Regions from separate parts of the Homo sapiens genome. Here region 1 is linked to region 2. A link means that fine-mapping ties the variant in region 2 to the expression of a gene that starts in the linked region. Tissue or cell type: whole blood. Region 2 holds a variant in brackets; the other region holds the start of a gene. All regions are shown on one strand. Distances are between the middles of the regions.

Evidence for each region. PIP is the estimated chance that this variant, and not a neighbour inherited with it, causes the effect.
Region 1: it holds the start of ECHDC1, and the variant in region 2 is fine-mapped to the expression of ECHDC1 in whole blood (INTERVAL, PIP above 0.99).

What each region holds. Positions count from the first base shown.
Region 1 is chr6:127,339,365-127,347,550 of GRCh38, forward strand. It overlaps ECHDC1 (ethylmalonyl-CoA decarboxylase 1), which reads right to left and starts at 4,245. Exons shown (of 6, transcript NM_001002030.2): 1 at 3,972-4,245. LOC105377994 (a long non-coding RNA gene) reads left to right here. Exons shown (of 4, transcript XR_001744334.2): 4 at 2,123-2,295. RefSeq lists enhancers at 3,530-4,403, 5,278-6,151.
Region 2 is chr6:127,376,881-127,385,066 of GRCh38, forward strand. No RefSeq gene overlaps it. Among named protein-coding and RNA genes, the nearest start is that of ECHDC1, 37 kb to the left of the region's middle. The variant G/A (reference allele first, on the strand shown) is at 4,930.

The DNA.
Region 1 (8,186 bases), 38 kb before region 2:
ATTTTTGTGGAACTAAATGACACATAATGTGGTTATTACTATATAGGTATTATGGTACCTAGTCATCATTTTCTAAACTAAAGATAATATCTATATTTACAAAATAAGAAAAAAAGAACTATTTCAGGCCAGGTACGGTGGCTTATGCCTGTAATCCCAGCACTCTAGGAGACCAAAGTGGGCAGATCGCCTGAGGTCAGGAGTTTGAGACCAGCCTGGCCAACATGGCGAAACCCCATCTCTACTAAAAATACAAAAATCAGCCAGGTGTAGTGGCACACACCTCTAATCCTAGTTACTCAGGAGGCTGAGGCAGGAGAATAACTTGAACCCAGGAAACGGAAATTGCAGTGAGCCAAGATCACACCACTGCACTCCAGCCATGGTGACAGAGCGAGAGACTCTGTCTCAAAAAAAAAAAAAAAGAAAGAAAGAAAAAGAAAAAAGAACTATTTCACTGTTGGGGTTTTTAAAAAATGCAAACCCAGGGGGTGTGGCTACAAGTGAGGGTATCATAGTCAGCCAAATAAATAAATAATCTTTCACTGGCCTCTGGTCAGCTTGCCAAAGAGCCACACCTTCTCCATCACTCCTAGCTGAGGAATCTCTGCTCCTCTTCAGAAAGGGAAGGCAAGAGCTCCTTGTCTGGTTTTATTCATATTTACAAAATGGGTTTATATGCAACATAATCTCTATTGGATCACTAATAAAAATATTGACACTTTTTAAGAAATGAGGTTAATAGACAATACAAAGTCATTCTACATATCTACATATAATACATATCGTATAAGGGTCTAGTTAGTAGTATTCTTCCTACTTTAACTATTTGAACAGATTTTCTCACAAGACTGTTAGGTGTGAGTTAAGGATAACCTGATGCATTTTCTATAACTTTCTCAGAATGAGAGGCAATTTACCCAGTAGGTATTGAGATAAGACTTGACTCACTGTGTCCTTCCCTTCTTCATTCTATTTACTGAGGATGAAGGGAACTTGCTTTCTCCCTCTCTCCCTTTCTCCCTCCTCTCTCCTCTCTGCAACCTAGGGCTGCCTTCAATTTGGGAAGTGTCCCATTCTAAGAAGGCCAAATAGCCTAGAGCTCAGGGTTCCTTAGGAATGCTTCTAGTCTAGGGAAAATAAGCTGTCAAGGTCATGTACCAGTTCAGCTAATAAACCTGGGAGGCCTACATATTCAGAGCCAAACATAGCATGCCTAGGGTCTTGCTTTTGCCTAGAATATGCCGTTAATCAGGTATGAAGATACAACCCAATGAAGCAGATACATGTGGGGCAGAGGCCCCAATTTCCACCTTGATAACTTTAGAATAAAAGTGCTAAAGAAACTTGGTAAGGACTTAGATAGTTGCTTTAAAAGTTTTTTTTTTTTTTGCCTGTCTGCCATAATCCTCTGTTTAGAGGAAGAAACAAGGAGTTAATCTAGAAAATAAGGAGGAGGGACTTATAAAAGCATTAGCATTTTGTGGGAAAGTAGAATCAGTAAACAACATATCTTCTGCTCTCATTGTAAAGGGTCTGTCTGCTCTGTCTTGATACATTACCCCTCTCTCCAACATCAACACTACAGCAATTAGTATGAACGCCATCAGATCTATATCCTTTTATCCTCAAATCTTTAAAACATTAAATATTTAAGTAATAGTAGTATTTTGCCTCATTAGACATCTTTGATCCATCACTGAAATGCCAATTTTTCCAAGAAAATCTTGTAATACTTCATGTATCCTTTCTCTATTAATTCCATATTTTCTATCTTCTCTCATTCTATTCCCTCCCACTACTGTCTCTCCTTTTCTCTCCTCCTCTTATATTCCTTGTCTGTGCCAGAAAAACCTGAGAACACTGCTTAAGCCTGCTAGATTCACTGACCCCAAGTTTAGAAATCCAATTCTAAAAATTTTATAATAGCCTATTATGTACACTTTCGTCCCAGTTCTAAATTCAGAGACTATCTTAGACAAAAGCTCAGTGATGAGATGACAAGGTGTTAGTCATTATTAACCTACTATAGTATCTAATAGTATAAAGTGAACAAAGCTTAAGATTCAGGTTCTGTAGAAGTATGTAGTTAAACGATTGGTTTTTTTTGGATTTCTTCCAGAATCACAGGAAGATGAAAAGGTTCTGAAGCATTTACAATTTTATAAGCTTTCTTCGGGGTAAAACTTATGTTTAAAACTTGCCATGCAGGATGTCTTGCAGCCCCACCACAAAGAAGATTCAGTGGAGCTGAACAAGCTCACTACCAAGCCACTGAAAAGAGGAAAGAAAGTCCATCTGAGATCAAAGGTCGCACTTCCCATTTTTTTCAAGTTCTGCAAAGGTGATCTGTTTCCCTTTAGTGCACAGGAAATAAGTGAGATGTTCTCTAAAAGCCTTTACCTGTTTCACCTTATACTGTAATCACTAAATCCAGAAGACTAACGCAAACTCATACTTAAAAAGAAAACAATTAGCCTAGAGCACGTAATAGAAATCAGAAGCATTTGATTTCAGACTGTCTGTATATCGCCTGTTTGTAAAAGTTCTGATTCGGTTGTAGGCTGTCATAACATAAACTACCTTTCAAGGTTCATTACATGCCACCCACAACTCTCTCCCTCACACAGCCAAAATGCACAACTTTCAGTTCCTGAAATCCTTTTGATTTTTTCGCCATCTCAAGCTTTCGCATATGCGATCTACCTGTTACATTTTTGTCTTCCTCAGAGTAACTTCAAATCATCTCCTCTAACATAGGACTACATAAAGTCCCCTTATTGTCTGCTCTCAGAACATCTGTATCTCTCATCACCACTCTCACTCACTCTTTGCTGTAATTAGTTTTTTAACCAGTTCTTCCCATTAGTCTTAGCTGCAAGAGGGCATTTGCAGTGCCTAAAGATAATATTCTTAAGACTAAACAGGGGCTTAAGAATCTGGCCACAAATCAACTCTCCAACTACCCTGTTTATAATCCTCACAACTCACCCTGTTTCAATGCCATGCTTCTTCACAGGCTGGCTTCCCTTCCTGGAATGTTAATCATTGCAGGAATCCCAGCTGATTATACAGTCGCCTTTCAGGCCAGAACCCAATAAAAAATCAAGAAAGGATCGCCCGTTCTATTACTGCGCTGCTCCCTCCCCTCGTAGATTTCACAAATATACTTCTCACCACAAGCTTGTCTGTTCCAAGAGAATGCTAGCTCTTCTAAAGAAGGAGCCCTTTGTTTTCCTTGCCCTTGTCCAGTTCCTCTGCATACCTCTAGCACCTAGAGCAACAACTGCTATACAGGAGCCCAGATGTGGAACAGAGCAAAGAACTGAGTGTTGATTTAATGTTGCCTGAAGTCCTTAACAGCACCTTCAACCTAAACTTAACTGTGTTTTTAATCCCCTACACGTGTAATCCCTGTATGTGTGCGCAGCGTTAAAAGGATTATTGTAGCTCAAAAATTCTCCAATGAAAGAACCTCTACCAGAAAGGAGTTGCTCATCTTTCGTTCTTGAAAAGTTGGCTGCACGATACAAGTAAGAAAAGTTTTAGTTAGGCAAGACAACTTATACATAAAAGACAATTATAGGGAACATTACCTAACTTAGCACAGGGCCTCGAATGTATTCCGAAATTAAATCAGCATGTAGAAAGCAAGCCTCCTCATGCTTTTTAAAGTGTAATCTCGCGACCTCGCGGCGCGCTCTGGGAAGACCGATTCATCTCTTCCCCTCGCCCTCTTTCCCCGGCCGGCGCACAGCCGGCCCGTGGCGCTCGGCACCGCGTCTCCACGTCCAGCGCGGGGCAGGCCTGCGCGGCGCTTGCAAGGGACAAGCCGCGGAGCCGGGGAGGCTCGCCGTCTGGGACACGTTTGGAGAAGCGAGCGGTACAGTCCATTCCACGGCGACATTTTAGGATTCTCCCACTGACAACACTAAACTGAAGCGCTAAGACCAACCCTTACGACCACTTACCGTCGCAGGCCACGGTGGTGACTTCCTTTTCCGCTCCCCTACACACGCTTTTCCGTTTTGCGTGCCTTTGTTTCCGCTCCCCCCGGGACCATCGTGCGCCCCTGTCCTCCGTTCTTGTAGGTCCTCTCCTCTTCTCCGCGTCTTCTCTTTTACTATCCCACGCTCTCCTTTCCTTTCTCCGGGAACTTTATCCCGTTCCCCTGCCGGTTCCCGTGACCCCGGAAATCCCGCTCCTGCCGCGAGGCGCCCTCCGCTTCGCGCTCCCTCGTGTCACGAGGGAGCCAGGGTGGGCGGTCTCCTATTGTACTTGGCTTTTGAATTTTCGCTTTTGCAGCACAAAGGTAGGGCTGGGAAAGGAGGCTGCCGAACCGTGCTTGTTTTCGCTCAGATAAACGTGAGAAAAAGTGGAGGTGAGGAAGCCAGTGTAGGCAAATAGCGAGAGGGGAGAAGACAGAAAGGTACCGAAGGTCGACCTTTTTTAGGTATCTTATCCAAGTTATTGAGGGGAATGGGTATTTAGCCAGTTTTTTGTTTGTTTGTTTTTATCCGAATATCCAGTGTGTGTCTTGAATGTGTGAATGTGACGTGTTTATAAAGCTCAGTAAGCTTAAAATTCCGTGCCAATACATTTTGTATGCCGCAGACAGGAAGTGCTTTGGAAGACCCTTGAAAGGGGAGGTGATTTTACACCAATATTGAGATCATTTTGTCAGAGTCGTGGGACTAAAGGTAGACCTTAGGTAGTCGATGTCAAAGATAAGCGCAGCTGGACGTTAAAGCGGTGAAAACATTCAGTTAACTACTGACAGGAAAGAGCTGAGCTCTATTTCGATTCGTGCAGAGATCATCTGGGCATTTTTAAAGGGACGTTTTAAAAGGAGAAAGGGGATATGCGGGCGCTCAGTAGAGAAAGTGAACCTACAGAGTTGTTAGTGTAAATGTGATTAGGCCAGCTGTGTGTTTGTGTGTGCGCGCGTTTTAACAGTTACCGCAGGATTCTATCCTCCTACGGAGGATTTTATCCTTCTCGATTACATTTCAAAGGAATGACTCTCTGGTCCTTGAGAGAGAACTTCTGAGTGGCAAGAAATAAGTCTTTACAATTGCAAGCCCTTTAGTAAACGTTCTAAGAAAGGGATGTCAGAGACCTATCATCAGTTGTGTGCTGGTTACATCACGTAGTTAAGCTTTCTGAGGCAGTCGCCCTGGGCACAGGGCCTTATGCTGCTAAAGCTTGCTAGAGTTTGGTCAAGTCTCTGAACGCAGGGGTTTAGATGGGATGGTCATGTTCCTGGAGTTCTGCAGTGGTCATAGGTATGATTTGAATAAGTACAGGGAATATTCTAGTCGGAGGAACAGAATGTGCCAACGCGCCGAACAGGGAGGATAGTTTTACGATACGGAGATGTGTATGATAGGGAATAAGTGGGAGCCCAGTTTGGACTAATTGGAAGAAGTCATTATTAGAAGTACTGTATTTAATTCTAGTTTGTTATAAAATGAGACTCCAAGATCACTGAGCCATTTCACTGAGACTCCAAGATCACCCCAATGCTAGGCTAATCTCCATGGCGCCTAGATCTATGCCCACTCCATTCCCCATGTTGGTCCCCATAGTTTCAGGCACCAGGCTCCAACACCAGGTTGGGCCCTACAGCCCCAGTCTCCAGGTTGGCACCAGTGGATATAGGCTTTAGGTCCACTGACTGCTGGTCCCTACAGCCCCAGGTTCCAGTGAACCCAGGTTCCAGGCCTGCTCCAACAAACCCAAGGTCCAGGTCTACCCCAGTAGACCCTGGCACCAGAACTACCCCAGAGGGCCTAGCCTACAGGCTACCACCCACAAACCCAGCCTCCATGATGGCCTCTGAAGAATCAGGCTTTAGGTCTTCCCCAGCACCAGACTAGACTGCTAGACTGATGTTCCACTTTTGTCCCCATGGACCCAGGCACCAGGCCCATCTGAGAGGTTTCTTCAGTTTTATTTTTCAGTAATAACTTTCATTCTTCTTTCTCAGTGATAACTGTAGTACTCAGTGGGCTTTCTATTTCTGGCTCCCATTTTCCATCTTTCTTTTTAACACTTTGGGAAAATATCCAAGTTAAACTCTATATAGTGGGGTAGGTGGACAATGAAAGATAAGTAAATACATAATATGTATAATCAACGGAGTGAAAAGACAGCCTGCAGAATGGGAGAAAATATTTGCAAACTATATATCTGACAAAGGGTTAATATCCAGAGTATATGAAGAAGTCAACTCAATAGCCAAAAAAAAAAAAAAAAAAATCCAATTTAAAAATGAGCAAAAGGCCTGAATGGACATTTCTCAAAAGAAAACATGATGATGACTAACAAATATATGAAAAAATGCTCAGCCAGGCACAGTGACTCACACCTGTAATCCCACACCTTGGGAGGCCAAGCAGGTGGATTGCTTGAGCCCAGAAGTTCAAGACCAGCCATGGGCAACATGGCAGAACCCTGTCTCTACAAAAAATCACAATTGGCTGGGCAATGTGGCATACACCTATAGTCCTAGCTACTCAGGAGCCTGAGGTGGGAGGATCACTGGAGCCCAGGAGCTTGAGGCTGCAGTGAGCCATGATCACACCACTGCATTCCAGCCAGGGTGACAGAGCAAGACTCTCAAAAACAAATACATACATTTTTAAAAAATTAAAAATAAATAAAAATAATCATAGGGGAAATGCAAATCAAAACCACAATGAGATATCACCTCATACCTGTTAGAATGGCTATTATCAAAAAGACAAAAAATAACATGCCCATGCATATGTGGAGAGAAATACTTATACACTGTTGGTAAGAATGTAAATTACTGGCCAGATGCAGTGGCTCACGCCTGTAATCCCAGCACTTTGGGAGGCTGAGGTGGGCGGATCCCGAGGTCAGGAGGTCAAGACCATCCTGGCCCACATGCTGAAACCCCTTATCTACTAAAAATACAAAAAAATTAGCCAGGCATGGCAGCACATGCCTGTAGTCCCAGCTAAACCTGGGAGGCAGAGGCTGCAGTGAGCCGAGATCACACCACTGCACTCCAGCCTGGGTGACACAGCGAGACTCCGTCTCAAAAAAATAATAAATAAACAAAAGAATTTGAATTACTCTAGCCATTATAGAAAACAGTATAGAGGTTCCTCAAAAAATTAAAAACAAAACTGCCATATGATCCCACAATCCCACGCCTGGGTATATATCTGAAGGAAGTAAAATCAGTATGTTGCAGAGATATCTGCACTCTCATGTTTATTGCAGCACTGTTCATAAGAGCCGAGATATGGAATCAACCTAAGTGTCCATCAGTGGATGAGCGGATAAAGAAAATGTGGTATATACATACAATGGAATACTATTCAGCCATTAAAAGGAATGAAATCCTGTCATTTGTGGCAACATAGATGGACCTGGAGAACATTAAGTGAAATAAGCCAGGCACAGAAAGACAAATATCACATGATCTCATGCAGGTGTAGAATCCAAAGAAGTTGATCTCATAGAAGTGGGAAATAAAATGGTGGTTATCAGAGGCTGAGAAGAGATTAATCAGTGGGTACAAAGTTACAGTTAGGAGGAATAAATTCTGGCGGTCTATTGCACAGTAGGATGACTGTGGTTAACAACATTGTTTCAAAATGGCTAGAAAAGATTTTGGTTGTTCTCACTACAAAGAAATGGTAAATACATGAGGTGATGGTTTTGCTAAATAACATTAAAATATCACCATATCCCATAAATAAGTAAAATTGTTATGTGTCAAAAATGAAACAAAAATATATAATGTTGGGGGGTATTAAGTGCTATGATGACAAGTAAAGCAAGTTTGGCATAATTTTGGGAGTTGGCATATTAGGTTAAGGTAAAGCCAGTTACTTTTGTTATGTTTATGAATTCCTAGGCCTCTTGACAAACACTGAGGTTCTCAAACATTGGCAAACACAAGTCACATTAGGTAAACATACAAATTCTTGGCCTTAGTTCCATATATTTTATTCTGAACAAATAGCCCTTAAGTCAAAATTGAGAAACAATGATTAGTAATAAGTTTTTACACTTCAAGTATTTCCTCATTCTGAACAAAGGATGTCGACATGTATTTACACACTTGAATGTTTCAACACTACCGTGTGATGTGATTTTACTTTTTTTTTTTTATATATTTCAGCTTTGAGTATCATGTATTCTATTTT
Region 2 (8,186 bases):
AGTCACTGGTTCAGGTCTGTTCCTGGAGACCATCAATTTGTGGGTACTTCTGGCTTGCCATGTTCTCCAGCCAAGTCTGAGGGCAGCTCTCTGATGCAAATGCAGTAACTAGCTGTCAGAAAACCTGCTGGCTTGCACGGAAGGTATGGTTCTGGACAGTGTGTCAACAGTGCCTGCTACACTGGGGAATTTTTCAAACAAACCAGCCCATGTCCTCCTCTTCCCCTCACTCACTAATGACCCTGAGTCCTGATCACCATTATGTACAGCAGAACAAAGAAGAGGTGTCAGTAGACATATTTTCTTCATAAAGATGCCCCAATGATGAATAGCCTATGTTTATTGGTTATGACCGTAGAAATGAAATGGAAAAGCTTCCACTGGGCCTGAAAGAGGCCACAGTGGGACTGGGAGACTGGAGAGGAGAGAAAAATCCTTTCTAAGCATTCTTGGAGGAATATGGTCATGGGTCAATAAGAAATGAATTGAAAGATTGTTGGAATAGAGGTAAAAATGGCAGAAATTCTTCTAGTCCAATCAGCACTTTTTGTCTTGTGACATAAAGTAACATTAGGCATTCTAAGAAAAAGAAGTGAAGATTGTGAGTATGAGAATTAAGATTTATGAAGTGATTTTGTAAGTTGGTGTAAGGTTAAACAGTCTAGAGATTCAAAGGTGCTGGAATGGAGGGAAGCACTCCAATGTACAAGCATGGAATTAGGCCAAATAGGTAGAAGAAGCCACAAAGGGCCTAATATAAGAATAAGAATATAGAAGGGATAAGAGATCATCTGATGACAATGATAATGGCCATGAATGTGGGAGGAAAAAGAGCAGGTAGAAAGCACTAGACAGAGGTAAAGCCTTGAGATTTAATCTTCAAAGTGGAGCAATTCAGAGAAGACAGATGATTGAAGTGAAGTAGAGATAAAAGGTTTTGGAAATACAGAGATTGAGAAATTATGAGGTCAGGCTTTCCAATTATTAATTAATTTATTTATTTTTGAGACAGAATCTCGCTCTGTGGACCAGGCTGGAGTGCAGTAGCACGATCTCGGCTCACTGCAACCTCTGCCTCCCAGGTTCAAATGATTCTCCTGCCTCAGCTTCCTGAGTAGCTGAGATTACAGGTGCCTGCCACCATGCCCAGCTAATTTTCGTATTTTTAGTAGAGATGGGGTTTTGCCATGTTGGCCAGGCTAGTCTCGAACTCCTGACCTCAGGTGATCCACCCGCCTTGGCCTCCCAAAGTGCTGGGATTACAGGCGTGAGCCACCGTGCCTGGCCTCCAATTATTTATTTATATATATAATGGCAGATGATGGAAGAAAAAAATTTCGACTTTAGTCTAAATTAAATTATAAAAGGAGATGATGTGGAATGTTTGTAACTGGGAGATGTTGCATTAAAGACTGGGAAAGGGGCCGGGTGCAATGTCTCATGCATGTAATCCCAGCACTTTGGGTGGCCGAAGTGGGTGAATCACAAGGTCAAGAGATTGAAACCATCCTGGCCAACATGGTGAAACCCCGTTTCTACTAAAAACACAAAACTTAGGCTGGGCGCGGTGGCTTACGCCTGTAATTCCAGCACTTTGGGAGGCCGAGGGAGGAGGATCACGAGGTCAGGAGATCGAGACCATCCTGGCTAACACAGTGAAACCCCGTCTCTATTAAAACTACAAAAAAGTAGCCGGGCATGGTGGCAGGCGCCTGTAGTCCCAGCTACTCCGGAGGCTGAGGCAGGAGAATGGCGTGAACCTGGGAGGCGGAGCTTGCAGTGAGCCAAGATCGTGCCACTGCACTCTAGCCTGGGCGACAGAGCGAGACTCCATCTCAAAAAAAAAAAAAAAAAAAAAAAAAGAAAAGAAAGAAAAAATTAGCTGGGCATGGTGGTGCGCACCTGTAGGCCCAGCTACTCGGGAGACTGAGGCAGGAGATCACTTGAATCCTAAATTGCGCCACTGCACTCCAGCCTGGCAACAGAGCGAGACTTCGTCTAAAAAAAAAGATTTGGAAAGGATGCCATATTTTTCAGAGTTATGTGTCGGGTCAAAAGTATTTTGATATTCAATAGAGATATCAGTCTTTTTTTTTTTTTTTTTTTTTTTTTTTTTTTGAGGTGGAGATTCACTCTGTCACCCAGGCTGGAGTGCAGTGGTGCGATCTTGGCTCACGGCAACCTCCGCCTTCTGGGTTCAAGCGATTCTCCTGCCTCACCCTCCCGAGTAGCTGGGACTACAGGCACGTGCCAACATGCCTGGCTAAGTTTTGTATTTTTAGTAGAGATGAGGTTTCACCATATTGTCAGGCTGGTCTTGAACTCCTAACCTCATGATCCGCCCGCCTCGCTCTCTCAAAGTGCTGGGATTACAGGTGTGAGCCACCCCACCTGGCCTTTTTTTAAAATTTTTTTTATTTTTTTGAGACGGAGTCTCCAGTTGGAGTGCAGTGTCATGATCTCGGCTCACTGCAACCTCCGCCTCCTGGGTTCAAGCAATTCTCCTGCCTCATTCTTCTGAGTAGATGGGACTACAGGTGTGTGCCACTACACCCAGGTAATTTTTATATTTTTAGTAGAGACGGGGTTTCACCATATTGGCCAGGATGGTCTTGATCTCTTGACCTCGTGATCTGCCCACCTCCACTTCCCAAAGTGCTGGGATTACAGGCGTGAGCCACCGCACCTGGCCCATCCGTTTTATTTAGTGTTATTCACAGCTTTAGTCTTTCTGACTCACAGAGAAGAACTTAACTAAGTAAGTCCTTTTGTTTCAACCATTATTCTAAAATTTGCTTATCTGAATGATAACTATTAAAATCTTATAGTAAGCTCCTATTCATAAAGTTAAACTGGCACTTGATGAATTCATCGGAGTTGACTGCACAACTCATTCTATTTCCATGAATTATTTGTTCCACTATGGAAACAGTAGTTTTAATATCCAGTCTAAGGAGATGTGTTAGGAAGGAAGTAATCTTTTATAATTGTAGCTCTCAGCAACTTAATTATTCAGAATTACCAGTTAAACAATCAATTAATGTGCCGGGTGCAGTGGCTCACGCTTGTAATTCCAGCACTTTGGGAGGCCAAGGCGGGCGGATCACGAGGTCAGGAGATCGAAAAAAAAAAAAAAAAAATTATCCGGGCATGGTAGCGGGTGCCTGTAGTCCCAGTTACTCTGGCGGCTGAGGCAGGAGAATGGTATGAACCCAGGAGGCGGAGCTTGCAGTGAGCCGAGGTCGCGCCACTGTACTCCAGCCTGGGGGACAGAGCAAGGATTAATGAAGTATAGCCTGCATTTTAACAACTATTTTAGGAAGTTCTGCATCTTAGAAAACCATATTCTAGGCAGACTGAGAAATATAATAAAAGTATTTATTGAGCACCTACTATGTATCCAAGTAGTTAACACGTATTAACTCTAATTGGTGGCAGTACAAAGTGGGCATTTGGTTTTCTGTGCAAATGTGACTTGAAGCCTTACCCCCCAACCCCAGCCAACTTGACATCCCTATGTCTGTGCTATATGGAAATCCCCCACTCCACACCCCACCCCACCCCCTCCCCCACACCCAACCCCTCCCCCCATCCGCCCACCCCTCCCACCCACTACCTCCCTACCCCCTCACTACCCCACCTCACCTCCCCCCCGTCAAAACGGACCTATCAGCTCTCTGTAAAACAGACCAATCGGCTCTCTGTAAAATGGACCAATCAGCAGGATGTGGGTGGGACCAGATAAGAGAATAAAAGCAGGCTGCGCGAGTCAGCAGTGGGAACTGGCTAGGGTCCCCTTCTACGCTGTGGAAGGTTTGTTCTTTCGCTCTTTGCAATAAAGCTTGCTGCTTCTCACTCTTTGGGTCCACACTACCTTTATGAGCTGTAACACTCACGACGAAGGTCTGCAGCTTCACTCCTGAAGTCAGCGAGACCACGAACCCACCGGGAGGAACGAACAACTCCAGACGTGCGGCCTTAAGAGCTGTAACACTCACAGTGAAGGTCTGCAGCTTCACTCCTGAAGCCAGCGAGACCACGAACCCACCAGAAGGAAGAAACTCTGAACACATCTGAACATCAGAAGGAAAAAATTCTGGACACGCCGTATTTAAGAATTGTAACACTCACCGAGAGGGTCCGTGGCTTCATTCTTGAAGTCAGTGAGACCAAGAACCCACCACTTCTGGACACATAGCTACAGTGGTTCAATTTATACCATGAAGGATGAGGTCATTGAAAGGCTATAAAAAACAAACTATTTAATGCTATATTTTGTTAAGTTGCCTTTTTTTAAAAAGCATCTACTACATATTTATCATGGTATCACTCAACCAGATAGACATGAACAAATTTAGATTAAAGACAGATTCAAAGTAATGTAACTACTGGCTTTGCTTTAACTTCCAAAGCAACCCTTTTTACCTTTAAGCCTTTCACAGGATGATTATGAAAATCAATGGAAAAATGTATGTAAAAGCTCCTTGTGAGCCGGAAGCTTCTTTCCAGGTGCTATGAATACTCAATCACTGAGAGGTAAGAGGAGTCATGACCATACACACTGTCCATCAGAAGTGGCGCCTCTTCTCCTTCAGGATTCAGTGTGGTTTAAACTATTTAACCTCTGTCTACCTCAATCTAATGACTGCAGCGTATCTCTGGATTGCCTGGGCATTGAATTACTTCTAGAAAGAGGAAGAAAGATGTGTGACACGTTTGTGGTTGGGTAGTGGTAGTGGTGTACACAGTGTGGAAAAGGGAGAAGAGCAATAAGGCTTTATTTTTGCCTGGACAACATGGTGAAACCTCATCTCTATTAAAAATACAAAAATTAGCTGGGTGTGGTGGTGTGTGCCTGTAATCCCAGCTACTTGGGAGGCTGAAGCAGGAGAATCACTTGAACCTGGGAGGTGGAGATTTCAGTGAGCC[G/A]AGATCACACCACTGCACTTCAGCCTGAGCAACAGAGCGAGATTCCATCTCAAAAAAAAAAAAAGTAAAATGCAACAATCCCTAGACAACAGTACTAGGGAGGCTGAGGCAGGAGAATCGCTTGAACCTGGGAGGCGGAGGTTGCAGTGAGCCGAGATCACGCCATTGTGCTCCAGCCTGGGCGACAAAAGCGAAACTCTGTCTCAAAAATAAATAAATAAATAAATAAATAAATACCTTATTTTTAAATGATAGCATATATTCCTCCCCTGACCCACTAGGTAGCAGGATGTCCCCTCCTCTAAACTCATGTAGCATTTTTTCCATCCTTCTTTTCAGGTGCATACAGTATTCTAATGGCTATTTCTCCTATTAAATCTGGGAATGTTGAGAGCCCAATAAATATTTGTCACATAAATGAAAAGGCTGTTCCAAAATTCAACAGTTTCGGGACTAACCAACTGACACCCAGAGCCAAAGTGAATAGTGGGATATAATGGCCATTTAATAATTTCAAAAGCTCTCATTAAACATTTTGTCATTGTTGTTGCTTTTTCAGGCACCTTGTTAGATACAAAGCAACCAACAGGATTTACAATGTACAGTCCTTGCTTTTAAGGAATTACGAATTTAGTAAGGCAAGTAGATTTATAATAACACAATTATACCAAGGTAGGAAACCATGGAAGACTTAAAATTAGGGGAATCATGTGAACTGAGTCTTGAAAGATTAGCAGTATTTTTCTAGGCAAAAGAGTGAAGGGAAAGGCATTTCATATAGGGAACAGCCTGTGCAAATATACGGAAGTATGCAACAGCATGGTTCATTCAGAGAACTGAAAGTATAGCTGACTAGTTGAAGTAAGGGGAAACACACAAACACCTCAAATGCCTACTAAGCTGCCTGCCTGTCTCCATTTTTCTTGACTATAATTATTGGGGATTTTCGAGTGTGGTGGATTAAATTATTGACTGCATTCTTTCCCTCTCCCTGTATCTGCTGCTTTGCCCTTTGCCACTCTAAAACAAAGTGTCTATCCCAGCAGCTTTACTTTGGTCAATGGGATGTGAGTAGATTTAAGGCATATCATACACTTGAAATGTATTTGAGGAGGAGGGCTTGCCCTCTTGTACCTCTGCTCTTCTTATGCAGAAAGCTTCCCTTGGTAGCTGCTGTTTCTTTTGCTGAGACCCCAGAGTGAACACAATGGAGGCCAGGCATTATGGCTTTTGCCTGTAATCCCAGCACTTTGGAAGGCCGAGGCGGGCGGATCACTTGAGGTCAGGAGTGAGACCAGCCTGGCCAACATGGTGAAACCGTCTCTACTAAACAAATATTAGCTGGCGTGGTGACGCTTTGCAGGGAGGCTGAGGCAGGAGACTCACTCGAACCCGGAAAGGTGAGGAGCAGTGAGCGAAGATGGCGCCACTGCACTCCAGCCTGGGTGACAGAGCGAGACTCTGTCTCAAAAAAAAAAAAAAAAAAAAATTAAATCTAACCAAAGACCCAGAAAAGAGAATTGAGGGACTAGAGGAGCTAGTGATGGAAAATATTATGGAACTATTTAAAAACAAATCCACAGATCCAAGAAGGAAAATACATTAAAAATATATTACAAATAAATCCATACATAGACAAAGAATTGTGAAACTATTTGATATTAAAGTCAAAACACAAACTCTTAAAATTAGTTGAAAAGGAAGGACAGAAACCTATATATGATCACAAAAGCTTAAATTAGACTAACATAAAACACTGAGGTGGTGTATTAGTCTATTATTGCATTGCTATAGAGGCATACCTGGGACTGGGTAATTTATAAAGAAAAGAAGTTGAATTGGCTCACACTTCAGCAGGCTGTAGGAGGACGGCACCAACATCTACTTGGCTTCTGGTGAGGGCCTCAGGAAGTTTACAATCATGGTGGAAGGCAAAGGAGGAAGCTGGCATGTTACTTGGTGAGAGAGGTAGCAAGAGGGCAGGAGGAGGTCCAATACTCTTAAATAACCAGATCTCTTGTGAACTAACTGAACAAGAGCTTACTTATCACCAAGGAGATGGAGCTAAGCCATTCATGAGGAATCCACCCCCATGATCCAGTTACCAGGCCCTGTCTCTATCATTGGGGATTATGTTTCAACATGAGATTTGGAGGGGACAAACGGCCAAACTCTATCAAGTGTTTTCAAAGTCAATACACAGGAGGCCTCAAACTCTCAGATGCCATTTCCAGAATCCCTTTGCCTCACCAGTATATATTTGGTTTTAGAGTCTTGAGAGCTGAATAAGGGCCAAGTTTGAACTGGAAAGCAACTGTACATACCTTCTGCTTTTTCAGCACAACAGCAGTACATAAATTGATGGTTTTTTACAGTGACCAGTCTCAAGGGAACAGATACATCATGCTAAAAGCATCCCTAGCTCTGTAATCAGTACATGGAAACCCCTGCATGACCCTTCTGTATTTCTTAGCCAGTAAATTTCACCAGTCAGTGATTTCAAGGAGGGTCAAGCTTGCCTTTGTTATCCCTATGGAGAGAAGAATGGTTTACAGACTCGTTCTTTCCACTCCAAACTACAGAGCAATATCAACAACAATAGAACTATAGCAGACTTCTCAACAATGAAAGCTAGAAAATGGTGGAATAATATCTTCAAATTATTGAGAGAAAATAACCCTCATCTTAGAATCACATGCTCAGCAAAACCTTTTAAGGATGAGAGAAAAAAATATTTACGAATAAAAAAGTTTGCTTCCAATAGTGCAGCATAAAGCAGCATTTAAAGACATCCTTTAGAAGAAGTAAAATGATCTCAGGTAGTCTGAGATAGGAAAAGACTGCTGAACAAATAAAACAGATTTTATTATGTTATGTAAAAATTATGGAAATCAATGTTACCTTTTCAAAAGGCAAAGAAAAGAAGAAAGTATACAGAAAGTTACCATCCAGTAACCTTTGAAGAGAGGCACTAAAGAAAATCTACTTTAGTGTGTCTCTCTTCAAAAAAAATTATATGAAAATGTTCGGAAACACTTGATTCCAGGAAAGGAAAGCCTCAATTTCAGGGATGGGGAATAGGCATTTTAAAGGAGCTTCAACAAGCTTAGTTAGATTGGAACATGGATTGCAGAGCATAGCAGAAATGGGTCCAGAGAGACATGAAGGGGACTTATGAGCTGTGCTGAGCAGTGTGGATTTCATGTTTTTATTATCTATCTATCGATCTATCTATCTATCTATCTATCTATCTATCT